Homo sapiens: one gene and its partners. The protein of the gene in region 4 purifies or fractionates together with the protein of the main gene of each other region. This does not show direct contact. Each region holds a gene or a part of one and is shown on either strand. Other genes may lie near its edges.

Region 1 (4,403 bases), on a different chromosome or scaffold from region 4:
CTAGGTTCATCTTTCCCATGTGAGTAATCTGTTATTCCAGCACCATTTGTTGAAAAGACTTTAATTTCTCCATTTCATTCCATTGATGCCTTTGTTGAAAACAAGCATAAGTCTGGGTCTATTTCTGAACTCTGTTCTCTTTCTCTGTCCTTATGCCAAAACCACATTGTCTTGTTTACAACAGCTTTATAGGTAATGTTAAAATCAGAGCATGTAAGTGCTATTTTCTGACTTCAAAATTGTTTTGGCTATTCTGAGTGCTTTGCATTTTATACAGTATTTATTTACACTATTTATTTATTTATTTAGAGATGGAGTTTCATTCTTGTTGCCCAGGCTGGAGTGCAATGGTGCAATATCTCAGCTTACTGCAACCTCCGCCTCTTAGGTTCAAGCAAGTCTCCTCCCTTGGCCTCCAGAGTAGCTGGGACTACAGGCACCTGCTGCAACACCTGGCTAATTTTTTGTAGTTTTAGTAGAGATGGGGTTTCACCGTGTTAGCCAGGATGGTCTCAATCTCCTGACCTCATGATCCGCCCGCCTCGGCCTCCCAAAGTGCTAGGATTACAGGCGTGAGCCACCGCGCCCGGCTGGAAGCTATTCTTTTGTTGTTGTTGTTGTTGTTGTGTCACTATGTTAACCAGACTGGAATGCAGTAGATACTCACAGGTGCAATCATAGTAGACTATGATAGCATTGCCCAGGCTAGACTCAAACTCTTGGACTCAAGCAATCTCTTGCCTCAGCTCTTGAGTAGGTGGGACTACAGGCACATACCACCATGCCTGGCTCCTTTAGTATTTCTTGTAGTGTAGGTGTGCAGGCAATTCATTTTCCTTCATCTAAAAATGGCTCTTCACTTTCACTCTTGTTTTTTTTTTTTTTGAGACAGAGTCTCACTCTGTTGCCCAGACTGGAGTGCAGTGGCATGATCTTTTTTTAACTTTTTGCTACAATTTGCTAAGGTGTAATTTTTCCCTTGTCTATCTTGGTCTTTGAACTTCTTTTCACACCAAATGTGGAAATTTTCTTCAGTTTTTTTCTGCCCCATTCTCTCTCTTCCTTATGTATGAGATTCCTATTCCATGCATGCTAGTCCTATTTATTTTGTCCTGCAGACCACCAAGGCTCTGTTCATTTATATTTTATTTTTTTGAGACGGAGTTTCATTCTTGTTGCTCAGGCTGGAGTGCAATGGCGTGATCTCAGCTCAACGCAACCTCCGCCTCCCAGGTTCAAGCGATTCTCCTGCCTCAGCCTCCCGAGTAGCTGGGATTACAGGCATGCGCCACCAGCCTGGCTAATTTTGTATTTTTAGTAGAGATGGAGTTTCTCCATGTTGGTCATGTGGGTCTCAAACTCCCGACCTCAGGTGATCTGCCTGCATTGACCTCCCAAAGTGCTGGGATTACAGGCATGAGCCACCACACCTGGCCTATTTTTTAATTTAATTTAATTTAATTTAATTTTTTGAGACAGAGTTTTGTTTGTTACCCAGGCTGGAGCGCAATGGTGTGATCTCAGCTTGCTGCAACCTCCACCTCCTGGGTTCAAGCTATTCTTCTGCCTCAGCCTCCCAAGTAGTTGGGATTACAGGCATGGGCCACCACATCCAGCTCATTTTTGTATTTTTAGTAGAGACAGGGTTTCCCCATGTTGGCCAGGCTGGTCTTGAACTCCTGACCTCAGATGATCTACCCGGCTTGGCCTCCCAAAGTGCTGGGATTACAAGCGTGAGCTACCGTGCCTGGCCTGTTCATTTATTCTTCATTATTTTTCTCTGTGTTCTTCAGGTCGTGTATATGATCTATCTTCAAACTTCCTGACCCTTTTTCTTCTGTCTCCAAGATGCTGTTAAGGCCATTCAGAATTTTTTTTTCTTTTTTTTTAGAGATGAGGTCTAACTATGTTGCTCAGCCTAGTCTCAAACCCCCAGCCTCAAGTGATCCTCCCACCTCAGCCTCCCAAGGTGCTGGGATTACAGGTGCGAGCCACCATGCCCGGCCCCATCCCAGTGAATTCTTAATTTCAGATTGTGTACTTTGCAAGTTCTAGAATTTCTATTTGGTTCTTGTTTATATTTTTTCCTTTTACTCCTGAGATGTCCACATCTATTCCTCTATGAAGATTATATTTTCCTTTGTATCTTTAAACATATGTAAAATAGAGCCTTTAAGATCCTCATCTGATAATTCTAGTATTGCAGGGTCTGTTGACTGTTGTGGTTTTTTTCCACCCTGGTTGTAAGCTATATTTTCCTAATTCTTTGTGTATCTAGAAAGTTCTCATTGCATGCTGAACATTATAGTTGCTACATAACTGGACATAGAGATTTTATTATCTTTAGAGAATATATTGAGTTTTGTTTCCACAAGCAGTCAAAATACTGGCAAATCACCTTGATCCTTTTGAGGCTTGTTTTTAAGCTTATTAGTTTGGGTCTAGAGTAGCTTTTACTCTATGGCTTTGGCCCTACCCCTAAACTGTGGTCTTTCTGAGATGTCAATGGAGTGTCCAAGGAGTTCAGTAAGGTTTCCACTCGCTTGTCCAGAACTTTTATCTCCTAGTAATCTATAAAATCTCCAGTTCACCTCTCCTTTGCAGCTCTTTTCTACTAGGCCTTGTAAGCTGTTATCTACAAGCTTAGTATTTGATCAAAGACTTAAGGGGAACCTTTTGCAGATTTCTGGAGCTCTTTTTTTCTTCTCCCCCTTATTCTGCCCCACAAACTCCAGCCATCTCAGAAGCCCCAAATTCTCTGCTTCTTCAGATCACTGAGACCACTGTTTCCAGCTTAGGCTCTGCCTCTCCATAACACAGTTTGGGAAGTGCCCTGGGTAGAGACAGTGACAGTGGGGTTTTCCCTTCTCTCAAGGATCTCAGTCTTACATGAGTATTAGTCAAAACCTGACATACATAAAACAGTGGCTTTATATATTTTCACAAGTTTTATGCTTGTTTATAGTAGGAAATCTAATCTTTGTCAATTACTCCATCATGACCTGAGCCTTTTTTCTTTTCTTTTTTTCTAAAGAAGAGCAATTTATTTTCTTACAGTTCTGGAGGCTGGAAGAGTACCATTCAATCCACAGTACACCTTGGAAAGGGCTCGGGATCTGAATTTTTAATGACCACCTCTAGTTATGGTTGAGGCAGTTGGTCACACAGTGTCTTCCATTGTCTGCCTGTGTTTTTATAGCCTTCTCTGTTGTGGCTGTAAGTCGAGAAGTGGTCAAGATGCCTTGAGCTTCTCATTGCTTCCCATATCCCTAAGCCCTTCCTTCCTTCCTAGCATTCATGCACACAGTTCCCTCTTGGAATCTTGTACTTTTCCCCATTACCTTTTTCACATATTTATGTGTTACATAAAACCAGAGCCATTGCTGCATGCATTTGAGCAAGGTGCTTAACTTCTCAGGGTTTGATTCTTTAACTCTAAAATGTCTATTCTGTTTCTTAAGTTTTACATGTATACTAAAGACAAGAGTGCTTTTGATTTCCCAGTTGCTTTGCCATTAAACTTAGACCACAGGACCCTTCAGCATGAATGACCAATAACCCAATTGTGTAGTACAAAAAGTACAGCTAGGTACCAAAAAAACAACTGGTTTATCTCTGTCACTACCTCTGCCACAGAAGCACTATTTGTGGGCCCTGTTTCTTCATTTGGTAAAATGAGGGGTTGATCCAGAAGAACTCTGAGGTACTTCCCACTTCTAACATTCTCTGATAATCAAGAGTTCACAAAGAAGAGAATACTTACTTCACTTCAGTTAATCAAAGAAGAGATATAAAAATCCTTAAGACAGTCTCTGGCCATAAGGACGAAAGCACCTAAGAAGCAGATTAGTATATGGTCTTTTTAACCTTTTTAAAGCTAATACAGTTTCAGCCATGTCTGCCTTACCTGTAATACCCATATGACAGTTGTGAAATGCATCTGTAAGACCATCACAGAGTATACTGTCAGTCAGTGGCATCTCACCTATCTTTACTCCTGTTCTCAAGTAAGCCAAGTGAGGAGCCTAGAAGTCAGAAATAAAAATGGATTTAGGCTTAGTTGCAATTAGTCTTCTCCCCAGAATACAACTCAAAACTATCTAGTATTTCCTAAGTCTTCATCTAGGCCCCTTTGCAGCCCTTCTCCCCAGTTCTAGGTCCTCAGCCAGGCCAAGGTCTAAAGACCCCTGGAATTAGCAGACTTCATCTTTCCTATTGTTGGGAACGATTACTCTCCTACCTACCCATTTTCAATTCTCCCTCAAACCTACCCATTCTGTGTCCTGTTTCCTTAAGAATTCCATTTATTCTTTCCATCGAGGCAATTAATTATCTGTTAAATGAAGAAATCCTCTAAGGGCTTAAGTAAAGCTAACAATGTGTTACCTATTTCAATGGATGAC
Region 2 (4,403 bases), about 87 Mb from region 4:
CTAATGAGATTTTAGATGTATGTGCTAGATACCACAATGTAGAGTTCTAGCATAGAATGGCTAATTTTGTTATGATCCGTAAGGTCCTTTCTAATACTGAGATTTCTAAGATTCTAGCTAATAAAGACTTACCACTTGTATTAGTTCGTTTTATACTGTTAAAAAGAACTACCTAAGACTGGGTAGTTTATGAAGAAAAGAGGTTTGATTAACTCACAGTTCTGTAGGCTTAACAGGAAACATGGCTGAAAGGCTTCGAGAACCTTACAGTCATGGTCGAAGGCGAAAGGAAAGCAAGCATATCTTAACCATGGTGGAGCGGGAGACAGAGAGTGTGAAGGAGGAGGTGCCATGCACTTTTGTTTGTTTGTTTGCTTTTTGAGATGGAGTCTCCTTCTCATTGCCCAGGCTGGAGTGCAGTGGCGTGATCTCGGCTCACTGCAACCTCTGCCTCCTGGGCTCAAGCAATTCTCCTGCCTCAGCCTCTCAAGTAGTTGGGATTACAGGCATGTACCACCACACCCAGCTAATTTTTATATTTTTAATAGAGATGGGGTTTCACCATGTTGGCCAGGCTGGTCTTGAACTCCTGGTCTCAGATGATTCACCCACTTTGGCCTCCCAAAGTGCTGGGATTACAGGCATGAGCCACCAAGCCCGGCCGAGGTGCCACACACTTTGAAACAACCAGATCTCGTGAGAACTCACTATCACAAAAATAGCAAGGGGGTTTTCTGCCTCCATGATTCAGTCATCTCCTCCAACACCTGGGGATTACAATTCACAATGAGATTTGGGTGGGGACAAGAGCCAAACCATATCATTCCACCCCGGTCCCTCCCTAATTTCATGTCCTTTTTACATTTCAAAACCAATCATGCCTTCCCAACAGTCCCCCATAACTCATTCCAGCATTAACTCAAAAGTCCAAGTCCAAAGTCTCATATGAGACAAAGTAAATCCCTTCTGCCTGTGATCCTATAAAATAAAAAACAAGTTAGTTACCTCCAAGATACAACGGGGGTACAGACATTGGGTAAATGCTCCCATTCCAAATGGAAGAAATTGGCCAAAACAAAGGGGCTACAGGCCCTGGGCAAGTGCAAAGCCCAGCAGGGCAGTCTTTAAATCTTAAAGCTCCAAAATAATCTCCTTTGACTCCATGTTTCACATCCAGGGCATGCTGATACAACAGGTAGGCTCCCAGGGCCATGGCTGGCTTCGCCCCTATGGCTTTGCCAGGTACAGCCCCCATGGCTGCTTTCATGGGCTAGAGTTGAGTGCCTGTGGCTTTTCCAGGTGCATGGTGCAAGCTGTTGGTAGATCTACTGTTCTGGGGTCTGGAGGATGGTGGCCCTCTTCTCATGGCTCCACTAGGCAGTATCCCAGTGGGGACTCTATGTGGGGGCTCCAACCTCACATTTCCCTTCCGCACTGCCCTAGTAGAGGTTCTTCATAAGAGCTCTGCCCCTGCAGCAGATTTCTGCCTAGATATCCAGGCATTTCTATATGTCTTCTGAAATCTAGGTGGTTTGAGAATCAGAGGTTACCAAACCTCAGTTCTTGCCTCTACCCCACAGGCCCCGTGTCACATGGAAGCCACCAAGAGTTGGGGCTTGCACGCTCTAAAGCCATGGCCCAAGCTGTACCTTGGCTCCTTTTCGCCATGGCTGGAGCTGCAGCACCTGGGATGCAGGGTGTCCCAAGACTGCACAGAGCAGCAGGGCCCTGGGCCCAGCTCACAAAACCATTTTTCCCTCCTAGGCCTCTGGGCCTGTGAATTAACATTTGGCTCCTTGTTACTTATTCAGATTTCTGCAGCCAGCTTGAATTTCTCCCCAGAAAATGGGGTTTTCTTTTCTACTGCATGGTCAGGCTGCAAGTTTTCCAAACTTTATGCTCTGCTCCCTTTTAAATATAAATTCTAATTTCAGACCATCTCTTTCTTCATGCATATGAGCATACGCTTTTAGAAACCGCCAGAAGGCCTCTTTTTTTTTTTTTTTTTTTTTTTTTTTTTTTTTCTGAGATGGAGTCTCTCTCTGTTGCCCAGGCTGGAATGCAGTGGCATGATCTCAGCTCACTGCAACCTCTGCCTCCCAGGTTCAACTGATTGTCCTGCCTCAGCCTCCCAAGTAGCTGGGACTATAGGTGTGTGCCACCACGCCCAGCTAATTTTTGTATTTTTAGTAGAGACAGGGTTTCACCCTGTTGGCCAGGCTGGTCTCCAACTCCTGACTTCGTGATCCGCTTGTCTCAGCCTCCCAAAGTGCTGGTGTTACAGGCATGAGCCACTGTGCCCAGCCCAGGCCACCACTTGAATGCTTTGCTGCTTAGAAATTTCTTCCACCAGATATCCTAAATCATCTCTCTCAAGTTCAAGTTCCACAGATCTCTAGGGCAGGGGCAAAATGCCGCCAGTCTCTTTGCTAAAGCATACCAAGTATGACCTTTACTCCAGTTCCGAATAAGTTCCTCACCTCCATCTGAGACCTCCTCAGCCTGGACTTCATTGTCCATATCACTGTTAGCATTTTGGTCAAAACCAGTCAACAAGTCTTTAGGAAGTTCCAGACTTTCCCATATCTTCCTGTCTTTTTCTAAGCCCTCCAAATTGTTCCAACCTCTGTCTATTACCCAGTTCCAAAGTCGCTTCCACATTTTCAGGTATCTTTTTTTTTGAGATGGAGTCTTATTCTGTCATCCATGCTGGTGGGCAGTGGCACAATCTCAGCTCACTGCATCCTCTGCCTCCAGGGTTCAAGCAATTCTCCTGCCTCAGCCACCAGAGCAGCTGGGATTATAGGTGTGCACCACCACCCCCAGCTAATTTTTGTATTTTTAATAGAGAATAGGTTTCATCATGTTGGCCAGGCTGATCTTGAACTCCTGACCTCAAGTGATCCACCCTCCTCAGCCACCCAAAGTGCTGGGATTACAGGCGTGAGCCACTGCGCCCTGCCATTTTCAGGTATCTTTATAGCAGTACCACATTCCTGTTACCAATTTTCTGTATAGTTCGTTTTCACACTGCTCTAAAGAACTACCTGAGACTGTAATTTATGAAGAAAAGAGGTATAATTGACTTAAAATTCCACATAGCTGGGGAGGCCTCAGGAAACTTGTGGCGGAAGGTGAATGGGAAACAAGGCATGTGTTACATGGCAGCAGGAGAGAGAGAGCAAGGGGGGAAGTGCCACCCTTTGGAACAACCAGATCTCGTGAGAACTCACTATCACAAGAACAGCAAGGGCGAAATCCACCCCCATGATCCAGTCACCTCTCACCAGGTCCCTCCCCTGACATGTGGGGATTACAATTTGATTTGCGATTTGGGTGGGGACACAGAGCCAGACCATATCATCACTGTACACATCATGTTCTTTTTCAAAAGTTCTTAGGAAACAAAGGCAATTAATTTTGGTGTTATTTTTTTTTGTTTTTTTGGTTTTTTTTGAGACGGAGTTTCGCTCTTGTTGCCCAGGCTGGAGTGCAGTGGTGCGATCTCGGCTCACCACAACCTCTGCCTCCCAGGTTCAAGTGATTCTCCTGCCTCAGCCTCCCAAGTAGCTAAGATTATAGACATGCGCCACCACACCCGGCTAATTTTGTATTTTTAGCAGAGACGGGGTTTCTCCATGTTGGTCAGGCTGGTCTTGAACTCCGGCCTTGGGTGATCTGCCTGCCTCAGCCTCCCAAAGTGTTGGGATTACAGGCGTGAGCCACCATGCCCGGGCAGCAATGTTTTATAAGTTTTTTAATTACTGCTGTTTTTAGATGTTTTGACTTAGCAGTATTTATTGATATACGTTCAAAATTTTACTTTTGCTTTAGCAAAAGAAAGTGAAGACAAGGAAAACCTTCCCAAAAGGACATCTCCTGGTGGCTTCAAATTTACTTTCTCCCACTCTGCCAGTGCTGCTAATGGAACAAACAGTAAATCTGTAGTGGCTCAGATACCACCAGCAACTTCTAATGGATCCTCTTCCAAAACCACAAACTTGCCTACGTCAGTAACAGCCACCAAGGTAGGTGAAACAGCATTACACACAAACTTTGCTTTTCCCGTCTGTGAGATTTTTTCATGTTTACTGAAAAAAATTTGGATAATCAAAACAATTTCAATGAATTGTTTAGAATTTTTCTGTTACCAAAATGTTGATTGTAGAATTTTATTTTATTTTATTTTATTTTTTGAGACAGAGTCTCACTCTGTCGCCAGGCTGGAGTGCAGTGGAGTGATCTCAGCTCACTGCAACCTCCGCCTCCCGGGTTCAAGCAGTTCTCCTGCCTCAGTCTCCCAAGTAGCTGGGACTACAGGCGCGTGCCACCACACCCAGCTAATTTTTGTATTTTTAGTAGAGACGAGGTTTCACCATGTTGGCCAGGATGGTCTCGATCTC
Region 3 (4,403 bases), on a different chromosome or scaffold from region 4:
TCTTTTTTTTAATCTAATTCTTTTTTTTTTTTTTTTTTGAGAGAAGTCAAGCTCTGTCACGAGGCTGGAGTGCAGTCGCTTGGTCTCGGCTCACTGAAACCTCCGCCTCCCGGGTTCCAGCGATTCTTCTGCCTCCGCCTCCTGAGTAACTGGGATTACAGGCACCCACCACCAAGCCCAGCTAATTTTTGTATTTTTAGTAGAGACGGGGTTTCACCATGTTGGCCAAGATGGTCTCAATCTCTTGACCTCATGATCTGCCCGCCTTGGCCTCCCAAAGTGCTGGGATTACAGGCGTGAGCCACCACGCCCGGCCTTGTCTAATTCTTTATTGTTAAAATACTGTTTTTTGAGACAAGTTGCAATCCAGTTTAGGTTATAGCTGTGTTTTAATGATGCCCTCCTTAGCAAGCATCTTAAAAAAAAAGGTGCCTCCTATCTGTAGACCTTCTCTGGCTGGTTGCTTTTGCACTTATTTTGTGTTCATTTTTAAAGCTTTTCTTTTTCTCTTTATTTTTTATTAAGGGAATCCTCACATACACAAAGATAAAAGTAGTGTAATGAACCTCCAAGGACCCATCTCTGAGACTCAACAATTATCAACATTGTGCCAGTCTTGTTGCAGCACCCTGGGACGAATCTTATTCACAGCAGGCTCTTCCTTCTTCCTGCCCACCCCACGCTTCCCAGTCTAGCACCTTAGACCAAAAGAGATCGGAAAATTGAGTTACCTGTATAATCTGGGCATAATTTTTTTATCGTTGTCCCTTTAACCCAGAACTTTATGCATTCTTTACTTTAGCTTTAGGAGAGTGGTGAATGAGATTTGTGAAGGGGACATTTTCTAGGGAATCGGTAAATTCGGGCCTTTGGAAAAAGTGTATCAACATCAGTCACATTGCCTAATTTCATGCTTACCTTGTGTGTAAGTTGCATAATCGCTGGCTTTGTGGACATGGGAAGGAAGGAGACTGGCTGTGGGTGGGGATGGAAGCCTGGGGACCTCACTGTAGACCCTTCCTTGTCCCCTCGTCAGGTTTGTATGTTCAGAGGGAAAGCAGTGCAGAACATATTTAAATAACCCTATTTTCCTTTATTTTTTTCTAGGTGTTGTTAGAGATACAAAAGGAATTATTAGACTACAAAGGAGTTGGCATTAGTGTTCTTGGTAAGATTTACTTTTGAATTCTGTGAATGTCCATGTTTCAAAGGAAGCTTTTTTTTTTTTTTTTTTTTTTAGAGGCAGGGTCCTGCTCTGTCACCCAGGCTGGAGTACAGTGGCGTGATCATAGTTCACTGCAGCCTCCAACTCCTGGGCTCAAGTGACCCTCCTGCCTCAGCATCCTGAGTAGCTAGGACTATAGGTACACATCACCACACCTGGCTAATTTTTTTTAAATGTTTAAAACATTTTTTAAAGATCCCATGAGATGGGATCTCACTTTGTTGCCCAGGCTGATCTGAAACTCGTGGCCTGAAGCCATCCTCCCACATTGGCCTCCCAAAGTTTTGGGATTACAGGCTTGAGCCACTGAGCCCTGGCCCAAAGGGAACTAATTTAAATGCATCAAATATAGAATTACAGGGCCTATAGGGTCTTCCTATAGGCCTTTATAGATACATTTTTAAACTTTAATAGCTTGGGTTGCATGTCTGATAGAAACCATTTTGAAAATAGCATAAATGCTGGTGAGAGGTTCTGACATCTCAGCTTACCCTGTCATAATTGGTTTTTGCTAATCATAGGATTTAGGATCAGAAGATACTGTATATTTGCATAACAGTGCCTCCAAACATTTATAATATTGCTTTACATTCAATTTACAGTTTTTATTATACTTAAATACAACCTCATTAAAGTTTAAAAGTACATAAGCCTTTTATGAAGACCTCGCACATTGATAATCTTATTAAGTTTCCCCTATATTTTTTGGGAAGAGGACCTCTGCATTCTAAAACTTATTTTCTTTTATTTTTGGCGGTTCTGAAGACTGCATGGTATTAAGAGACCATAGGGTTAACTATATTGCTTATTTCTGTTAAATTTTGCTCCTGTTGGTTTGGGACATATACTTAGATTTCTGTGAAGTGAGATCACAGCATGGAATTTTGTGCTCCAGACCTAAAGGGCAACTGTTGCACATGGATTCCTGTTTGTGAGAAAGAGATGGTAAGAAGAATCACAGAGAGCATCACGGAGTGATGAATTAATAAATAACTTGCTCAGTGAATGTACCACTTGAAAAATCCTTCTGCCATGACTATAAAGCTAAAATGTTTGCAATTTGAAAATCAGTTTGTATGGTCCCCTAAACTAAGTGAGCCTTGGCCCACAATTTGAATGCAGAATAACTGAAATTTCCCTGTATTGTTGTTTACTTGCAAATTTCGTAGGTATTTCTGTTCATTTGGTTTTGAGCTGGAATATTTGTTATTGTTGTTTATCTTTCCTTTCACAGAAATGAGTCACAGGTCATCAGATTTTGCCAAGATTATTAACAATACAGAGAATCTTGTGCGGGAATTGCTGTAAGTTTTAAAAAGACCAAATCATGTTACTTTTGTTAGATACTTCCTAAATCTGGATGTCTTCCAGTATTTTCTACACTCTATTGTTTGTTCAGAATATTTCATAATTTAAAATAATCCTTGTAAGATTCTCTCCAATTCACTATTAGTACCTAACGCTTTTTATTTGTTCCCCATCCCGTGTTTATATGTTTTTGTTTTTATTTTATGTGATATTTCCAAAGATTTGAAATCATTGTATCTAGGAATGATTTTTCAGCACTGTGGCAGTTAAACTGGTGTGAAAGAGATGTAAATGACACAGAAATGGTCATCTTTGTCAGCATAATTGACTATAAACTAGTTCAGGTGTTCTCGAAGTTTGAGTCTCATACGATCTGTCAGAGTCACCTGGTTAGGGGGAATATTAAAAAATTCAAGTGGGGCCGGGCAAGGTGGCTCATGCCTGTAATCCCAGCACTTTGGGAGGCCGAGGCGGGTGGATCGTGAGATCAGGAGATCAAGACCATGCTGGCTACCACGGTGAAACCCCATCTACTAAAAATACAAAAAAAGAAAAAATTAGCTGGGCATGGTGGCGCATACCTGTATTCCCAGCTATTCGGGAGGCTGAGGCAGGAGAATCGCTTGAACCAGGGAGGCGGAGTTTGCAGTGAGCCGAGACCGTGCCACTGCATTCCAGCTTAGGTGACAAAGCGAGACTCCGTCTCAAAAAAAAAAAAAAAAAAAAAAAAAAAATCAAGTGGTGGGCACCACTTAGTCCTGCTGAATCAGAATCTCTGGAGAGACTTTATTTTTAACAGGCTCTTTGGGTAATTGTAAGAGTTCTGAACTGTAGGAACTACTGCTTAGACGAAATCTCCTGGGTTATCTGTACTGCCTTTCCTATCCAGAGAATCCCTTATTCTTAAATAGATTGCTATTTAAAGGAGAGATTTTTATATATTATATAAACATGTTCACATAAACCTACGAATATAGCAAGTTTGAAAGCATACCATTTTTTTTCCTGCTCACAGAAATAATGCACATTTATGGTAGGAAAAACACTGTAGCTCACAACTAAACTGAAATTAACTTTAACCCCACTAATCAGGGATAATCACTAATATGTTAGGACCCATTCTTGCATTATTACATTAACAAAATTGGAATTATACTGATTATTTCAAGTTTTCTTTTTCAAATTGCTTGATAAAATGATTCAGATGGGGCAGGCTTGGTGATATTTCTGTGAGGAGCTGTAGACGCTAATTGCAATGTGAATGTTCAGAGCTGGTAGCCATCTGCTTGGCTTCTCTCGTCCATTGGCCTGCTGAGTATCATGTCACATTCATAGGACAATCCTGTCCTTCATGGAGTGGGTATTTGGAACATCAGCCTGGGAGAGATGACATTTGACCACATGGCTATGAACTTCCTCTGACTGGGGTCCCAGTTCAATTTAAGGGCCTATCTTTTCTTCTCCTAACCTGGTTCCCACCTTGTATACCTGTACCTAGACCTCGGCCTGGTTTCTTTCCATCTAATTCTTGGCCTTGTTAACTGCCCTGCATCTGAATAATGTGAACCTGGAACTCTGTCTTGGGTTATCAGTCTTCCCAGCTGCTAAGAACCTCATGGCCAGAGTCTCCTAAGACCTGCTGGTTGCTTGCTATCCTACTAAGCACTGAATATAGGCCATACATCTTTCAGGACAAGATATTTACACTCCTACCACCCCATTCCCCAAGACCCTGCCACATTGCCCTGCCCTTTATTAATTTACCTCTGTATCTTTGCTGGAGCTCTGTTCCCTGGCCATCTGGCTTCCGTACACCTATTCCCAGGCTCTGACCTTACTCAGTGGCTTGGGTCCAGTTTCCATGGCCTTG
Region 4 (4,403 bases):
ATTTGTTTCTTGTAGCTGAAAACATTCATCTTTGATTCAGAAATATTAAAAGAAAGACAGACCCTGAAAGGATGAAATTAATAAGAGATAGGTTAAAAAGGTCAAGAACAGAAAAGCTGAGTGTACTGGTCCAGAAAGATGGTGACATGATGATACAGTAGAGACATCTTGTGGATGACACAAATCTCTTTGGAGCATATTGATCCCAAGGTACATATAGGACATCCGGATGTAGTGGGAAGATGCAGGCTATTTCCTATTGTATGAGTAGCCTGGAGTCTGCACTTGACAGTGGTAGCTGAATTATGGCAGTGGTTAAAAATCACTAGAGATACAATGCAGGGGACAATCAGAAACATCTACAATTAGTGGGTGTAGGAAAGAAGTTCCTAGTAGAAACAAGTAACAGAATATGAAAAATATAGAAACATGGAAGTAAGACAGAGCTCCAAAAAGATGGGTTGGCACATCTTCATCTTGAAGAAGCATCTTCAAACTGATGTCTCTTGCCACATGCTGGCCTTCCCTTGTTATTGAGCTCTCTAACCTGTTTTCCTTGGCCTCCCCCACTTGCTACAATCTCAGGCCTCCTCAGTTAAGAAAAGCCTCAGTATCTTAAATCTATTGTGTGAATCAAAGTCATATTATCAATTGTTCTTTTTATTAATTAGTTTTCTTCTTTGATGACCACTTGAAATCTTGTATTTTCTCTCTCCTTCAAAATCAATTTCTATACCACCTACAATCAAACCAGGAAAAGAAAGCTAACCATATAGAAATATGGGCAAGACACTTGAACAAGCATTTCATAAAAGATATATAGAAAATCAACAAGTATTTGGAAGATTCTCAATCTTATCAATAATCAGGGAACTGCAAAATAAAACTGCCACGCATTACCACTGCAAACTACTTAGAACAGCTAAAATTATAAAGACTGAAAACAGTAACTATTGGTGAAGCTGTAGAGAAACAGAAAGTCTAATATATGCTGGTAGAAGAACAACTTTTTTGGAGGATTGGCATTATTGATTAGAAATAAATATACAAATACCTTATGGTTCAGGAATTCTAATTCTAGGTATATACTTAACAGAAATGTATATGAATGTATACCCCCCAAAATTTATGTGAATATTTAGAGTAGCATGTATTATTATATTAGTAGTTCTCAAATGAAAATAAAATCCAAATATCTACCCTAAATAAAACGGAAAAAACCTGTGATCTATTTCATACTATGTAAAAATACACTGAAATAGAAAAAAAAAACAAACAAAAGTACTGCTAGGTACTGCATGAATGAATCTCACACATATAAAAGTAGCAAATAAGCCAAACACAAAAAAAAACTTTATAAAAGATGAGCATCTAAAATCCCAAATTCAGAAATCTGAAAGGCTCCAAAATCCAAAACTTTTTGAACACTGACAGAATGCTCAAAGAATAAAAATTTCATTGGAGCACTTGAGATTTCCAGATTTGGTGTGTTCAAGCAGTAAGTATAATGCAAATATTCCAAAATCCAAAAATATCCAAAATACTTCTGGTCCCAAGTATTTCAGGTAAGGAATATTCAACCTGTGTATACCTTCATATAAAGTTCAAAACTAGACAAAATAATGCATTTATATAAAGTTCAAAATGGACAAAGCTGACTATGTGGTTAGAAGTTAGGGGAATTATAAATTTGAAAGGGGGATGCTACGGTCTAAATGTTGGTCTCCCCAGACCCCAATTTTATATGTCACAACCTTATACCCAATGTGACAGTATTAGGAGGTCAGGGCTTTGGAAATGATTAAGTCATGATTAAGTGATTCCTCATGAATGGAATTTGTCCCTTTGTATTAGAGGCTCTAGAAAGCTCCCTTAGCCCTTCTGCCATGTGAGGAAGGGCAAAGCAACAAGGCGTCATCTGTGAAACAAACAGCAGCCCTAAGCAGACACCAAGTCTGCTGGCATCTTGATCTTGCACTTCCCAGCCTCCAGAACTGTGAGCAATATATTTATGTTGTTTTTAAATTACCCAGTTTAAGGTATTTTGTTATAGCAGCCCAAGTGGACAGAGACAGAAGGTAACAGGTAGTATTTGGAAGAAGACACGATTGAGGATTCTGAGTATTGGAAATACTTTTTTTTTCTTGATGGGGTGATGGTTATAAGGCCTCAAAATAACTCATGAAGCTATTTGCTTATGATTCATGCTGTTTTTGGTATACATACATTTCTTAAATTAAAATATTTTTCACAATTTCTGTTTCTTCTTCCTTATCACATGACTATGAAGATTTTACCTCAGAACCTCCTGATTGACTCTCATTGCTCCATCCCACCATCATTTTGTATTCCCACCATGCTTTATTTCTGAAAACGTTTTTTTGCCTCACATGTCCAAATCTACCAGTGACTGTGTCATGCCCTTTGTTCTTAGAATTTCCTATCTCTTTCTTGATTGACACCTTTAATTTCTTCTCTGCCTCTCTCTTCAGTTTTATTCACAGATGACCAGACCACCAGAGAGACCTATCGAAGTCTACATTTCAAAGAACTTTGCCTCACCTTGGTTGATAATAGGAGGAACTACAGCAAGAGGGTAAAAATTTGTTAGAATAATCTTGATAATGGATAAATCTACATCTGCTATATCCCCATTTGATTCCCATAGTATTGATTGCTTCTTCATAGTTACACTTAAAGCTGCTCATTCCTACCTTCATTTATTTGACTGAGAGTTCTATGAGACTAACTTGGTAGGCATTTACTATATTTTTTAAGTTAAAGAAAACCTGCAAAACATTTAACAAATGGCTTTAGCAATCAAAGTACTTAAGTATGAGATTTACTTATAAAACCTAAAGTAAACAAATTTATTTTGTGTTTCAATGGGAAACAAAAGAAAGTGTCTCTCAACCACTTTATAATATCATATTAATTGAGAAGAGTAGAAAGGTAAGGAAACCATCATTTAATAGCAGAATGTGTGCCAATCCATTTGGTGTTTTATATTCATCATTCTCACACTGAACCTGTAAGGTGGGTGCTGTTATGTTAAATTAGCACTTTTAAAGCGAGATGTCAAGTAACTTGCTCAAGATTGTGTAACAATTAAATGACCTAGCCAAGATTTGAACCTCAGATTGTGTGATGGAAACCCATGGTCTTTCTTCTGTATCTTGCTGTCTCATGTCTAGGAAGGTTAATGAGACATACGTGTATACTAAGGAAGCAGGGACTGCTGATTACTTGCATAACATTTTAAAATATGATTTTTTATTGGCCTCCCTTTATTTTGGTGCTTAACATTTAACATCTAAATTAAGAAGACATTATCTTTATATCTTTTGTAATGCACCACTTTCAGAGTTATCCGTCAAAGCAGTTGGAAGTCGTTGTTAGAAATTCCTAGAGACTGCTGATAACAGTGCTAAATATATTTTAATTAGTTCCATTCATTAGCTTCAATAACTGAATATATTAACTAGATCTCACATGTATATTAATCCCATAACTTATTAATGTTCAGAATAAAATTCAATTGTCACATTTTTAAATACATGGCTTGATTGCTGAATGAAATAGAAGTGCTATTTAAAGATTTTAAACACAAATTGTGACTGTTGAATGTTGCCCTTTTTTTTCAAATAAATACTAAAAACACTTTTTACAAACACTTACATACAAAGAGACATGACTTCAAAACAATTTAACTGTGATTTAGTAGTGGGTAGGAAAAAAAGCTCTCATTACAGGCAGTATAAAAAATTTTCAAGAGTCTTAGGAATAAAATGGCCTCCTTAAAGTAACTTGTATAAAATTTGATCTACTGATAAAATTGAATTCTGCATTTCTTCATCTTTAGATACTCAGCATTAAGTGAAAACTCATTTATAGAGTGATTTATAGTATGACAAAGTATGAGTTGAATTTTTAATAGACCTAGCATGTACTTCCTATCTTAAGTATTTTGTCTGCTTCCTGGTGACTGACCAGCTGAGTACCAATGGCATCACCTACAGCTTGCCTGGCCTGCTGACTAGAGGCAAATGCACAGAGCAGCTGCTACTAAGGAGGTGAGACCACAGAAGTGGCAAAAAAAAAAAAAAAAAAAAAAAAGCAGTTTAAATAGAGATGCCTGAAGCAAAAAAGATTACAGATTTTCTTTTAAAAATGTAAGATTTACTCGCTTTTTTTTTTTTGAGATGGAGTCTTGCTCTGTTGCCCAGGCTGGAGTGCAGGGGCACGATCTTGGCTCACTGCAATCTCCACCGCCCGAGTTCAAGTGACTCTTCTGCCTCAGCCTCCCGAATAGCTGGGATTACAGGTGCCCACCACCATGCCCAGCTAATTTTTGTATTTTCAGTAGAGATGGGGTTTCGCCATTTTTGTCAGGCTGGTCTCAA
Region 5 (4,403 bases), on a different chromosome or scaffold from region 4:
CATTTTATTAATACAGAATAGTCTTTTAAAGGTATTGTTCAGAAAGGAAACAGGATTGCAACAAAAAAATAATTTTTTAAAAACTGAGAGGTGTCAAAACAAAAAAAAAATAAGAGTTTTAGTCAAAACTAAAAAAACAGTAGTCTAATTCCCTACATTACATTGTAAATCCCAGACCCTCCGCCCCCCTTTTTTTTTATAGTGGAAGAAACTACCACATAGTTAGACATTATTTTAATGATTATAAGTAAAAACTTTTGTCTTTTTAAATTTTAGGGATTGAGTGTTGCTATAGTGGGACCCACGTTTCAAGATTTGGCAACAAACGTGAACCGAAATATCAGTAGTCTGTCTTTCATTTTTGTGGGTCGTGCCTTGGGATATTTGAGTGGCTCTGTGATTGGTGGATTTCTTGTCGATGTCATGAATTATTTTTTACTTTTGGGTAAGTAAATGCTAATTTTAGCTTCTTTATGACTGTCAAGTGAATTTACAAGTTGTCTTTGAAAATATGAAAATACTAGCATGCAGAATGGTTGGCCACTGAAATGGGTAGTGTTTAGGTGTCCTCAATGGCAGTTGAGTTTCCCTGGTACCTGCTTTCATCTTGACAGTTAGAGGGTATCTGTGCTGGGTCCCTCTGGAAATTTAGATTAGCTCTAGAGTGTCTTAGCAATCCTTAGCCTTTCCAACCACTATAATTTAGCTACCACTCCTGGATCACACACTGGTTGTCCAAAAAACTCTGCTTAGAGGGTTTAGGGCAGATTTCCTGGGGTCACCACAGATCAGAATGAGCTCTTTGAACCTGCCCAGGCTACACCCTGGATTGGGAATGAAGAGGGGAAGCGAGGTTGGGTGGACTGATGTAGGCTATGTTTTTGTTCCTGCTGCCCCATGTTGTCGTTGGACAACCCCAGAGTGCTCTGTCTCACCCTGGAAATAGATGGCAAAGCTGCTTTTTTTTTTTGAGACAGGGTCTCCTCTCCCTCTATTGCCCAGGCTGGAGTGCAGTGATGCGATCTCTGCTCACTGCAACCTCCCCCTCCTGGGCTCAAGCGATCCTCCCATCTCAGCCTTCCAATTAACTGGGACCACAGGTGTGAGCCACCATGCCTGATTAATTTTTGTGTTTTTAGTAGAGCCGGGGTTTCACCATGTTGCCCAGGTTGGTCTGGAACTCCTGAGCTCAAAGGATCAGCCTCCCAGAGTATTGGGATTACAGGTGTGAGCCACCACGCCTGGGCTGGCAAAGCTTTTAGCATATACTTTTTTTGAATAAATTGAAATATTTAGAGAAAATTTAGATTAATATGATAAAATTGTTTTGGAAGCAAGAATAATTTGTTATTGTTAAGGAATTAATAAATAATCCCTCTTATTTCCAAAGTGGGTTGAAATAACATATTTCTTGTATTTTCCTCCCTATTTCCCAAACTAATTTATTTAGTAAATTTTATTACAAACTACTCTAGTAATTGCATTTTATTTTTGTCTATTTAATTTTTTGCCTCATGTCTAAAAATTCCTGTTAGGTTCTTAAATGTGAATCATTTAAATTAGTTTTGGCTTGTCTCTTTTGGTATAAAACTTTGCCTTATGGTATAATTTACAGTTTGATTACTAGCAGTGCTTTAAATGTATTTGTGTTATAATTATTTATATTTCATAATCCATAAAGATTATAAAAGATTCAAATGAAATAATCACTTTTAGAAGCAAAAACTCTCATCTACTCATTATCTAATTTAAATTTGACCTGATTTTGCATGTTTGGACATTTATGATATTGACTTGATCCATGACTGCATGGATATTATTTTTTATAGCTGAGTTTCTACCTTCCCAGGAATCTCAATGTCGGCTACCACCGTTGGTCTTTATCTTGTTCCTTTTTGCAAGACAGCAATATTACTCACTGTCATGATGTCTATCTTCGGTGTTTCAATTGGCATTCTGGATACAGGTTAGTGAGCTCTTCAACGTCATCTCTGGGAGTAGGGACTTGCTAGAAGAAGTACAGCAGATGATACTAAACTGTCACTTGCAATGCCCCCTAAAATGACACAGACCTACTGAGTTGGTTGTGAGTCACTCAGAATGAATCACCCTTCTAGCAGCTATTCTTGCCAATTAGGGGGCCTGTTTCTGAGCAGCCAACTCTGAAATGAACTTAAAGAATTTTGTTCTATGAGAGATAATTGATTTACATTGTCCAAACAGGGAAGGGCCCCTGTGTGGGTAATTACAGTGCAGGTGAATAGGCCTTCATCTTGGGGTAGAACTTTATTGCTCTAGTATGGGAGGAATTGGTGGTTTAATAGGTTAAACCAAGTTTGGAACTGTTATTTGGCTGAGAAAGCATAGAAGCAGCAATCCAACTTGACATTTACCCTGACTTCCAAGCCAAGAGAGATCCATAGTGTGGACTAGGCTCTTTCTTTTTCTTTCTGTCCTCAAAGTTCCTGGCCTCCTGCAGTAGATTCTTTCCCGTATCATCATCATGTCTTTTAAAACTTACTAAATAGGCCGGGTGCGGTGGCTCACACCTGTAATCCAGCACTTTGGGAGGCCGAGATGGGTGGATCACGAGGTCAGGAGATCGAGACCATCCTGGCTAACACAATGAAACCTCATCTCTACTAAAAATACAAAAAATTAGCCGGGTGTGGTGGTGGGCGCCTGTAGTCCCAATTACTCGGGAGGCTGAGGCAGGAGAATGGCATGAACCCAGGAGGCGGAGCTTGCAGTGAGCAGAGATCACACCACTGCACTTCAGCCTGGGTGACAGAGTGAGACTCCATCTCAAAAAAAAAAAAAAAACCTACTAAATAACGGCGGGGTGGCTTACGCCTATAATCCTAGCACTTTGGGAGGCTGTGTCGGGCAGATCACCTGAGGTCAGGAGTTCAAGACCAGCCTGACCAATATGGAGAAACCGCGTCTCTACTAAAAATATAAAATGAGCCAGGCATGGTGGCGCGTGCCTGTAATCCCAGCTACTCAGGAGGCTGAGGCTGGAGAATTGCTTGAACCCAGGAGGTGGAGGTTGCAGAGAGCCACGATTGTGCCATTGCACTCCAGCCAGGGTCTCAAAAACAAACAAACAGAAAACCTACTAAATAACATAGATGACATCTGTTTACTCCTAAAACCAGCTTTCTACCCCTCCCTTCCCTGCTTTGCTGTTACGTGATCTGTTGAGGAAATATTTTATTTTACTTTAGGGTTAATTTTGTTATGAAATTATAGGGTAGAATTATATATTTATCTGAAAATATCTGTTGAAAAAAAAGAAGATAGCTCAAGATGTGCTGCTTCTTGCCTTTCTCCTCCTAGACGTTTAGACAGTATAAATTCAGATGCTAAACGGTGTCCTTGTTTCCTCTAATGGGCATACCAGAATCCTGGCTATTCAGGTTCCTGGACGTGTGTTTTGCATCTGTTACATACATAAGTAAGTAATTTTCCTCAAGTGGCTACCAACAGCAAGTACAGAAAGCTTTGGTAATTTGGCTACTATCTGATGATAAAATTTTGCCTTTTAAATATATATTTAAAATATTAATATATAAATATTTCTTCTGCAGTCTGATGTTAGAACTGTATTATAAAAAGCGTCTTGCTAATGTGCTTGGTTCTAGGAGGTAGTAGTCTACTAGACTGTAGAATTCGATTTGTGAGTATGTGATGTTATAATGCTTAGAGTTGTCTGGTGGTAGTGGGTTAGAATTCCTTTCTCAGAATTGATTTAGTTGCAATGTTTGATAATTAGAATATTATAATGCTTGTGCTATGTAAAATAGACTCACCCCCTTTCTGATAAGTGAACTTTTTTTTTTAATAAGTAAGTAACTGTTTAACTTAAATAATTTTTCCCATCTTTCATCGACAGGTGGTAACGTCCTTATCTTGGCTATTTGGGGGGACAAAGGAGCCCCACATATGCAGGCCTTACACTTCTCTTTTGCCTTGGGTGCCTTTTTGGCTCCACTGCTAGCTAAACTGGCTTTGGGTCCGACAGCGTCTGCTGAAAACCACACAGAGTCTGACTTCCATCCTGCACTCAACCAATCATCTGATGCTGACTCAGAAGCTCTGTTTGGAGTACCTAATGATAAGAATTTACTGTGGGCTTATGCTGTTATCGGTACTTACATGTTCTTAGTTTCTGTCATTTTTTTTTGTCTGTTTTTAAAGAATAGCTCAAAGCAAGAAAAAGCAAGAGCATCTGCTGAGACATTTCGAAGAGCAAAATATCACAACGCCCTTCTTTGTCTCCTTTTTCTGTTCTTCTTTTTTTATGTTGGAGCTGAGGTAACATATGGCTCTTATGTTTTCTCATTTGCAACCACCCATGCTGGCATGAAAGAAAGTGAAGCTGCTGGGTTGAACTCCATCTT
Region 6 (4,115 bases), about 89 Mb from region 4:
GTAAAACATTTTATGATGTATTTCATATGCTAGTGTAATGAACGCAGCAAAGAACATGTTACGTACTCGACAGACGATGATAAAATTATGAGAAACCTTTTGAAGGAATACAACAGAGCAAAACATCTGTTTTTTAAAATTATCATTGTGTATTATGAATATTAAACAAATGTTTGTGATTTATATGTGAAACAATGTCTTTTTACCGCTTTTTTGTTTTCCCAAAAGTTGAGTTACCATTCCAATTTGAAATGGACTGTGTACACGCTTCATTTAGTACTTTTGTAAACTGTGTTTGTGATCTGACAGCAGCCTGTGAAATTCATAAGAATCACATAGGATGTAAGTCTCCATGATGTATGCCAATTACAGAAATTAGGTTGGTCTGTGTCTTTGTTACTAACAAAAATAGCTATAGCAGTGGCCTTCAGAGATGTAGAGTCTGGAAAAACTTGATCTTAATGTCAGGTTCTGGCACTGCTTTTACAGTTATAGCCCTGATGAGAGCTATCAGTAGGGAAAATAATTTATGGAGAAATTTAATTTTGCTAAAAGAGATAAAAGTTTATGCTCATAACCCTAATGTAGTTTTTATCCATTATGAGGCCACAAACTCTTTGAGAATCTGCTGAAATCTCTATTAAGAAACTGCCAAAGAGCATACACAAAATTTGCATGCAATTTCAGGGAAGGTCTTCACCCCAGTTCCCACACTACCCCCTATCCTCCATTATTCCCTCAGACTTAGAATGTCAGTCCTAATAGAAATTATTATATCTACAGGTTCGAGAAATGGCTGCTACTACCTTAAGCGGTCTGCTACAGTGTAACTTTCTTACCATGGACAGTCCTATGCAGATTCATTTTGAGCAACTTTGCAAAACAAAACTACCTAAGAAAAGAAAGCGAGACCCTGGTTCTGTAGGAGATACCATTCCTTCTGCAGGTAACATTGCTGGTAGGAAACACCTGTATCCTATTGGGAATTAATGAGGGTTAACCAGGCTTACTCATATTTATTGAATAACTTGTATGTATGTGCCCAGGTCTATGCTAGGTATTGGGAAAAGTTTTCCCTACTTTTGAGGAGTTTTGCATATAGAAAGCAGGACTTGGAATGTAGAAAAGCTAAAATTGAGGTAGATAGAAAGGAACCTGTAGAACTGCTACCTAACAACTATTGTATTCAGTCTACCCTCCGCCCAGAATAGCTTCATAAAAAAGAGATATTCAGAATTAGTTATTTTGGAGGGTCTGAAAAACCTGTTTTGGAATTTAGAACTTAAATGTAGATGTACTAACAGAAAAAACTAAAGCAAGCCTTGTTTTTTATTTGGAGAGGGGATTATTCGGTCCTTCATTAGTCCTTTGGTGAGAGGGTGCGGAGTCATTGCAGGAGCTTCCAATCTAATTGAATATAGACACAAGATAAACACGAGAATAAGATCTGACTACTATGTCATGTTTAAAAAGAAATGTAAATGTGATTACAAAGATGCATCTTGCCATGTTAACTGTAATCATAATAGAAAATACATAAAAAGATTAATAGTAAGTAGGAATTTTATTGAATTTAGAGGAAGTGCTTAAATATAAAGCTTTTACTGCTGATTAGTGTCTTAATTATGTCATAAAGTTACCTAGTAACAGAATCCAATAAAATATCAATGTACATTCTAGTATCTTTGCTTTTTGGGATATATATATGTATGTATATATATTATATATATATTATAAATATATTTTATAATATATATTATATATATTATAAATATATTTATAATATATATTATATATATTATAAATATATTTTATAATATATATCATATATATATATATTATAAATATATTTTATAATATATATTTTTTGGAAACAGGATCTTCCACTGTCACCCAGGCTGGAGTGCAGTGGCATGATCTCAGCCCCCTGCAACCTCCACCTCCTGGGTTCAGGCGATTCTCATGCCCCTGTTAGCCGAGTAGCTAGGATTGCAGGCGCGCGCTACTACACCTGGCTAATTTTTTGTATTTTTAGTAGAGTTTCACCATGTTGATCAGGCTGGTCTTGAACTCCTGACCTCAAGTGATCCACCCACCTGGGCCTTCTAGAATACTGGGATTACAGACGTGAGCCACAGCACCTGGCCTGAGAACTCTGTTTTTTTAATGATAAAGCACCAAAGTATTTTTAGGTCTTTTGTTACACCAAATGATATTGTTCACAATTTTGACCAGTCCAAATTCTCTTTTCCTTACCTTCAACTCCCTATTTTCCATGTGTCACAAATACAAATGTAATATGCTTTAAAACATGTGAATACACACACCTTTATTGAGGAACTGAGAATTTGAAACCACTTACACCACTACAGAACTAACTTACACTACTACAGAAAGAATAGAGACTCTTTAGAATACAGACATGCTGCAATTCTCTGTTTTAAGAAATAGACATTCTTCATACATGATGTGTTTACTAATGAATTGATGTATTCTGGGTAGGGGCGTCACATCCAGAAAAAAAAAACCACGCTAATTTTGATTGGAGATTGTTTTAGAATCAGGGATTGTACTGGCCTAGGTACAATTATGCTGTCATTGATAAGCAACTATGGAAGTCTTTAAAAATCCTTTTTTTTTTTTTTTTTTTTTGAGGTAAGGTCTTCCTCTATCGCCCTCCTTGGAGTGCAGTGGTTTTGAATATGGCTCACTGCAGCCTTGACCTCCCAGGCTCAAGCGATCCTCCTGCCTCAGCCTCTTGTCTAGCTGGAACCACAGGCATGCACTGCCATGCCTAGCTTTTTTTTTTTTTTTTTTTTCCTTGAGACGGAGCCTCACTCTGTATCCCAGGCTGGAGTACAGTGGTGCGATCTTGGCTCACTGCAGCCTCTGCTTCCCTGGTCAAATGATTCTCATGCCTCAGCTTCTGGGTATCTGTGACTTCACATGCCATCACACCCAGCTAATTTTTGTATTTTTAGCAGAGACAGGGTTTCGCCACGTTGGCCAAGCTGTTCTTGAACTCCTGACCTCAGGTCATCCACCCGCCCTGGTCTCTCAGTGTGCTGGGATTATAGGCATGAACCACCATGCCTGGCCACCAGCTGATTTTTAAAAATTATTTTTGGAGAGACAGGTTCTCACTTTATTGCCCTGGCTGGTCTCAAATTCCTGGCCTCAAGTGATCCTCCTACCTTGGCCTCCCAAAGTGCTGGGATTACAGGTATGAGCCACTGTGCCCAGCTGACAAATTCTTAAATACAGAATTATTTTTAGTTTAGCCTCAAAATCAAGTATTTGATGTGTTTACATGTAGATTCATTTTAAATGCAGAAATTCACATATTGAAAACAACACAATTGAAAACTAATTTTATCTCACTGTAACAAGTGCATTAGAGACATATATATATTTGCACAAATGTTGCTATTCTCTTTGCAGAGTTGGTCAAACGCCATGCTGGGGTGCTAGGACTTGGTGCATGTGTTCTTTCTAGTCCTTACGATGTTCCCACCTGGATGCCCCAGCTCCTCATGAATCTCAGTGCACATCTAAATGATCCTCAGCCTATTGAGGTACAGTTCTTCCTTATTAGTTTGTACGTGTATTATCAGTGATGTTTTCTAAGAAACCATAATAATAATTTCCTATACACTCTGAACTAACTGCTTTCATAAAGCTGCTGCCTCTGCCAAGGCTTAGTCTGCTCACCAGTAATTATTAAAAAATTACAGAGACCTTGCTGCCATGGATATTTGAGATCTTTTGGTAGTGAGGAAATTATTGTAGCTTCTATCCCTCCCAGTCCAATGGAAGTAAAGTACTGTCAATATTGTTGTGATAAATTTTATGTTTCTATTTTTCTAGCACTGCAAAGTATTTTACTGGAAGCTAATATTAAATAGGAAATTATGATGGCATTTTTAGTAACTCAAAAGACCATTCACTTTGTCCTTCTCATTGGCTTTTTGGTTTTGTAGAACTTGGTATTGTGTGAGATCTGAAGTCTAGAGGGACGGTAATTTAACTAAAAGTATCCTACATATGATCCTGGTTGTCCAGAGAGGTTAAAACGTATGTGGGTTGTCTACTTTACAGATGACTGTAAAAAAAAC
Region 7 (4,403 bases), on a different chromosome or scaffold from region 4:
GAGCCTGGAGATCAGCCTCAGGGTTCATGCCAACCTCCTGTGGGTCTTCTGGCACCAGTCTCTTAGCACATATTGAAGTCATCACCTCCTCCCCTGACTGCACTTAAGTCACAGATAGCTTGGGTTGGTTGAGGATCCTACTGAGTTTACCTGAGACAGTCCTGGCTTATGCCTGTTGTGGTGTTGTGGTTATTAATATCCCCTTCAACTCTTTTGTTGTTGTTGTTGTTGTTGTTGTTGAGACAGGGTCTGTCTCTGTCACCCAGGCTGGAATGCATTGATGTAATCATGGCTCATTGCAGCCTCGACCTCCTGGGTTCAGGCAATCCTCCCGCCTCAGCCTCCTGAATAGCTGGGACCACACGCGTATGCCACCATACCTGGCTTATTTTTTAACTTTTTTGTAGAAAGGAGGTCTCATTATGTTGCTCAGACTGTTCTTCAACTCCTGAGCTCAAGGGATACTCCCACCCCAGCCTCCTAAAGTGCTGGGATTACAGACATGAGCCACTGCACCCAGCCTGCCTTTCACTCTTGAAAGTGTCCCAGTTTGGGTGATAAACCATCTGGTCACCTTAAACTTGAATGCTATGAAGTTCACAGTAAGAATTCCCTGCTGTTTTATTGCCTTTTATATCCTAGCTGGCTAAGTTAAAGGATTTCTGGAGTTGAAGCCCAGATGCTGAAAGTTGCTTTCAAAATATATGGCGGTAAAGAAAGGAAGAAAGCAAATGGATATCTGGCAGCCTGGCTTCTCACTTGGCATCTCCCAGGCTTTCCCTTTTGTTTACACCTGAACTGCGTGGAGCACTGGCTCAGCTGCTGTATTAGGCTGCAGCTATTCTACTGGGCTCTTCACTGTATTAGACAGTGGGATGATGCCCGGCCCTGGGTAGCTGCTGCAGACATTTCCACTGCTGAACCTCACTGTAGGGGAGCCAGCAGCTCCTTTCGTGAGCCTGCAGGATTTTTCCCTGGCTACTCAGTCACTTTCACCAGCCCTTCTTTGAAGCCCCACTTCAAAGGATAAAGTTTGCCTTAAGAATTTTCTGAAAGTTAAATCATTTTGAAACTTGGTGCTCTAGGTGTCTGGTTTCTTTTCTCCCAGTGACTCTGCTCTATACATCAGCAGTTTTGGTAGAATTTAGCCAAGTGGGTGCCCCACACTCTGATGTGGATGGGGAAGAACAAGTAGAACCACTTAGCATGTGACCCACGCGAGTGTTTGCTGAACACACTCTACTTGTCACTTGTGTATGTCTTTTGTGTTGGAGTGCAGATGATAGGGAAAAATACTCCATACAGAAGGGTAGAGGCAGTTCTCACTCATTTCGTAAAGGCAGAGGGCTGGAAGCTCTTTTGTGCACACGCTGACACTCTGGCAGCCACCTAACAAATGCCAACCAGGTTGAGTTTTTCCTCTGCATGAATGAAGCTGCTTGGAATCAGCGTTTTAATATGCTGATTGCCCTTCACTTACAAATCAAAGAGGCAGCCTCCTGTCTCTATATTTTCCAGTAAATAAACATTTTGAAAAAGAAAGAGACCTAACTAATTAAGCTGTTAATATCCCTGGATCTTGGATTCAAAGCCAAATGTTTTGCACTGTTATTGCTATTACAACAGAACCAAGTTTGCTGTTGTTGAAAATTCTTAGGATCAGGACAAAATCTACCAATCCACTATATGCTCATTTAAGAGACCCAAATCTAAAACAACAAATTCAGATTGCTTCTAAAGCAAAGATATGATCATCAGTCAGGCTTCAAATGAGAGCCTTCTCCTAGCCCTTCCAATTTAGGGGACCTTTTCTCCTGTATCTGTGTCAATCACTGGTGAATGTGTTGAAGTTTACCTGTAGGGATGAACAAACATTCATTTTTTTCCTAACCAATCTGTGGCCCCTTTTCCATTTTTTCTTTTTCTTTAATACCAGAAGGATAGTAATAGAGAGCAGATGGATTGCTGGGGGGATGAGTTGTGTAACTGGCTTACCTATCCGTAGAAGCATAAAGTTAATTCTCTTAAAGGTAAAGTAATTCTGGTCTCTAGCCTCCATTTACATACACTATTCTCACAGAGAAACATGGCTTCTTAGACTCTCCACCCTCTAAGCACCTCAGTGGCTCACACCTACACACCCAGCATCTCCCCATGTTATGCAGCATCACCCCTGGCACCTCCATTTGCCAATATTTTTTCCAGTAAGCCACTTGGCAGCATTTTGGCATGCCGTTTTGGAGATGATAAACCACACCTGAGAATCAATGCCTGTCGCGTGATTAGAACACAACCATGTGTTTGCCCATCGAAAGTAACAGTTATTTGTGAATTGAGCAAAAATAATTCTTATTTTTTATTCTTTTTAAGGAGAAGGCAGAGTTAAAAACAAGACAGGCGCTGATCATTGGAATGTGTATAAAGTGTGATATGTTAGACACAATGGTATCGAGGAGAGTGAAAGACAGAAGGAGAAAGATAGAATGTAGCTACGGCTGAAGTTTTGCTGAGTGAGAAAAACTGATCTTTGCCATCAAAACAAGTTCAGTGTCCCCCGAGCCCCCATCAGGGGTGTGGTGGCCTCTGGGGTCCTGTCCACAGGGACTCAGCTCAGGGCCCTGCTCTCTCCAGTTTTCCACTTTATAAAAAGTCATATGCAGAGAGGCCCCTGGCTTATGGGAGTCAGGGAGTGGTGTTATCCAAAGGTTGTCCCCAACCAGCCATATTTGTTACTAGCTCAGAACTTGAGCAAAGTACTCCCTTTAGTTGCCACAGTCTTCACCCACCTGGGCTGATTTCTTTGTCCTGTATATTGGAGTCACCAATGAGTATCTCCAGCCTCACTTATTAATGGACCTCTTGGCTAATTCTGAGGGCAGGAGGATTACCATCCCCACCCCTACCCACTTACCCAAGGCTGTTTACCAACCTATGCAAGGCCTTTGTGTGAATTAGGAAAAAAAACCACCCTTGTTCCTCTATGAAGATATGAAGATGCAGCCCTGCACCAGCCACACATTTGGGGGGTAGAGTAGGGGACTGGGCTTTAGTACCATTCATCCCTTTAGTCTGATGCTTTTGTGCAGTGCACACAACACACACCCAGATGCAGCAATCCTATTCATATTGTGGGTTTCTCTTATCTGGAAATGTTCTCTTATGTGGAAATGTCCACTTATCTGGGTCTCATACCATTTCTGCTCAGTCATGCAATTCATAATGGACTAGTGAATCCTAGTTTCCTAAAGGGCTTCTTGATGCCTTGCAAAGCGACTGCCTCCAAGGTGGGGTTGCCCACTCATGGACCTGGAAGACATTTGGATCAGTGGGCACAAATGATGGGCTATTTGGATGTTTTTCCTTCAGGCATGAAGAACCCCTCTAGGAAACTCTGATTCATTAGTCCATCCTGAGTGACATGACTGTATTTAGGCAAACAGTATTTTTCCAGCCAATTGTTTCCCTAACCTGACCTGAGCCTCAGAAAGTGAAGATGATGGGTCATTGAGTCAATGATGCTCATGAACATCTCGAGGGTTTGCTTTGCCTTTCTCAGTTGAAGGGATGCTGACCAGAGTCCAAATCACAGCCTCCTGGATGTTCAGCCCCATCTTTACTTTTAGCGCAGGATCTGCCCTCAGTGGGGTTTTCCAGTGTGCTCTCTCTCTCTTTCTCATCCCATGACTTCATTACTGAGAGGTCATCCAACCACTCTGTCTCATCTTAGAACAAGAGAAGACCTCGTCGGTTTTCCTGGGCTACGTCAAAGCTGAGAGTTCCTGGCACACATTACCCTTCCAGACCAGGACATGCATTGAGAGTTGTGGCCATACTCTCGCTCAGTGTGTGAAGGAAGCCTATCTGCCTCCTGTTTCCCCAGACGCTACAGGAAGCTCAGTGATGCCTTGTGCTTCCCTAACTCTCTCTTACGTTCTCACTCGTACCCTAGTGAAGATGCAAAGGAGAGAGAAGAGCTCCTGACTTGTCAGCTCCCAGCCATTAGCCCAATCATGACAGAACTATAATTCCTAAGTGCTACATATAAGAAGCAGTCAGCAATCACAGATGTGTGATCCCACCTAACTAGTCTATGGCTATCAATGCCCCAAACCAATAAATGCTTTAAATGCCCCAAGCAGTGTAAATGTACGCTCATTACCATAATTCTGGAGAGGGATGTCCCAAATTGGTCCTGCCATCTCATTTTCCATAGTCAGGCCATTTTTTTCTGTACTTTGAGTAAGACTTTTAGTCCCCTATAGGAACTAAAGGATCATTTCAGTTCCTAAGTGCTCATACTAATAATCCTATATAATCACCAGAAATTGCTATCAAAGGATGATCCCACTCTCAGGAACTTACCCAGGCCCCCAGGGTTCTGACGAGGGAGGCTGTGTGGTCTC

Evidence for each region.
Region 1: the proteins of KYNU (region 4) and ACAT2 fractionate together in Homo sapiens (co-fractionation; one large-scale study listed by BioGRID). This does not show direct contact.
Region 2: the proteins of KYNU (region 4) and PPP4R3B fractionate together in Homo sapiens (co-fractionation; one large-scale study listed by BioGRID). This does not show direct contact.
Region 3: the proteins of KYNU (region 4) and PSAT1 fractionate together in Homo sapiens (co-fractionation; one large-scale study listed by BioGRID). This does not show direct contact.
Region 5: the proteins of KYNU (region 4) and SLC60A2 purify together in Homo sapiens (affinity purification with mass spectrometry; one large-scale study listed by BioGRID and IntAct). This does not show direct contact.
Region 6: the proteins of KYNU (region 4) and PSME4 purify together in Homo sapiens (affinity purification with mass spectrometry; one large-scale study listed by BioGRID and IntAct). This does not show direct contact.
Region 7: the proteins of KYNU (region 4) and PALM2AKAP2 fractionate together in Homo sapiens (co-fractionation; one large-scale study listed by BioGRID). This does not show direct contact.

The regions. Positions count from the first base shown.
Region 1 is NC_000006.12:159,768,133-159,772,535, reverse strand, and holds part of ACAT2 (acetyl-CoA acetyltransferase, cytosolic), read right to left. Parts: intron 4,026-4,403; coding exon 3,908-4,025; intron 1-3,907. UniProt on the Homo sapiens protein: Involved in the biosynthetic pathway of cholesterol.
Region 2 is NC_000002.12:55,558,400-55,562,802, reverse strand, and holds part of PPP4R3B (serine/threonine-protein phosphatase 4 regulatory subunit 3B), read left to right. Parts: intron 1-3,834; coding exon 3,835-4,028; intron 4,029-4,403. UniProt on the Homo sapiens protein: Regulatory subunit of serine/threonine-protein phosphatase 4 (PP4). May regulate the activity of PPP4C at centrosomal microtubule organizing centers.
Region 3 is NC_000009.12:78,299,495-78,303,897, forward strand, and holds part of PSAT1 (phosphoserine aminotransferase), read left to right. Parts: intron 1-1,107; coding exon 1,108-1,168; intron 1,169-2,459; coding exon 2,460-2,529; intron 2,530-4,403. UniProt on the Homo sapiens protein: Involved in L-serine biosynthesis via the phosphorylated pathway, a three-step pathway converting the glycolytic intermediate 3-phospho-D-glycerate into L-serine.
Region 4 is NC_000002.12:142,960,989-142,965,391, reverse strand, and holds part of KYNU (kynureninase), read right to left. Parts: intron 1-4,403. UniProt on the Homo sapiens protein: Catalyzes the cleavage of L-kynurenine (L-Kyn) and L-3-hydroxykynurenine (L-3OHKyn) into anthranilic acid (AA) and 3-hydroxyanthranilic acid (3-OHAA), respectively. Has a preference for the L-3-hydroxy form. Also has cysteine-conjugate-beta-lyase activity.
Region 5 is NC_000006.12:111,261,981-111,266,383, forward strand, and holds part of SLC60A2 (sodium-dependent glucose transporter 1), read left to right. Parts: intron 1-276; coding exon 277-445; intron 446-1,849; coding exon 1,850-1,966; intron 1,967-3,895; coding exon 3,896-4,403. UniProt on the Homo sapiens protein: May function as a sodium-dependent glucose transporter. Potential channels for urea in the inner medulla of kidney.
Region 6 is NC_000002.12:53,866,207-53,870,321, reverse strand, and holds part of PSME4 (proteasome activator complex subunit 4), read left to right. Parts: intron 1-783; coding exon 784-946; intron 947-3,441; coding exon 3,442-3,575; intron 3,576-4,098; coding exon 4,099-4,115. UniProt on the Homo sapiens protein: Associated component of the proteasome that specifically recognizes acetylated histones and promotes ATP- and ubiquitin-independent degradation of core histones during spermatogenesis and DNA damage response.
Region 7 is NC_000009.12:110,157,178-110,161,580, forward strand, and holds part of PALM2AKAP2 (PALM2-AKAP2 protein isoform 3 (PALM2-AKAP2)), read left to right. Parts: intron 1-4,403. UniProt on the Homo sapiens protein: Binds to regulatory subunit (RII) of protein kinase A. May be involved in establishing polarity in signaling systems or in integrating PKA-RII isoforms with downstream effectors to capture, amplify and focus diffuse, trans-cellular signals carried by cAMP.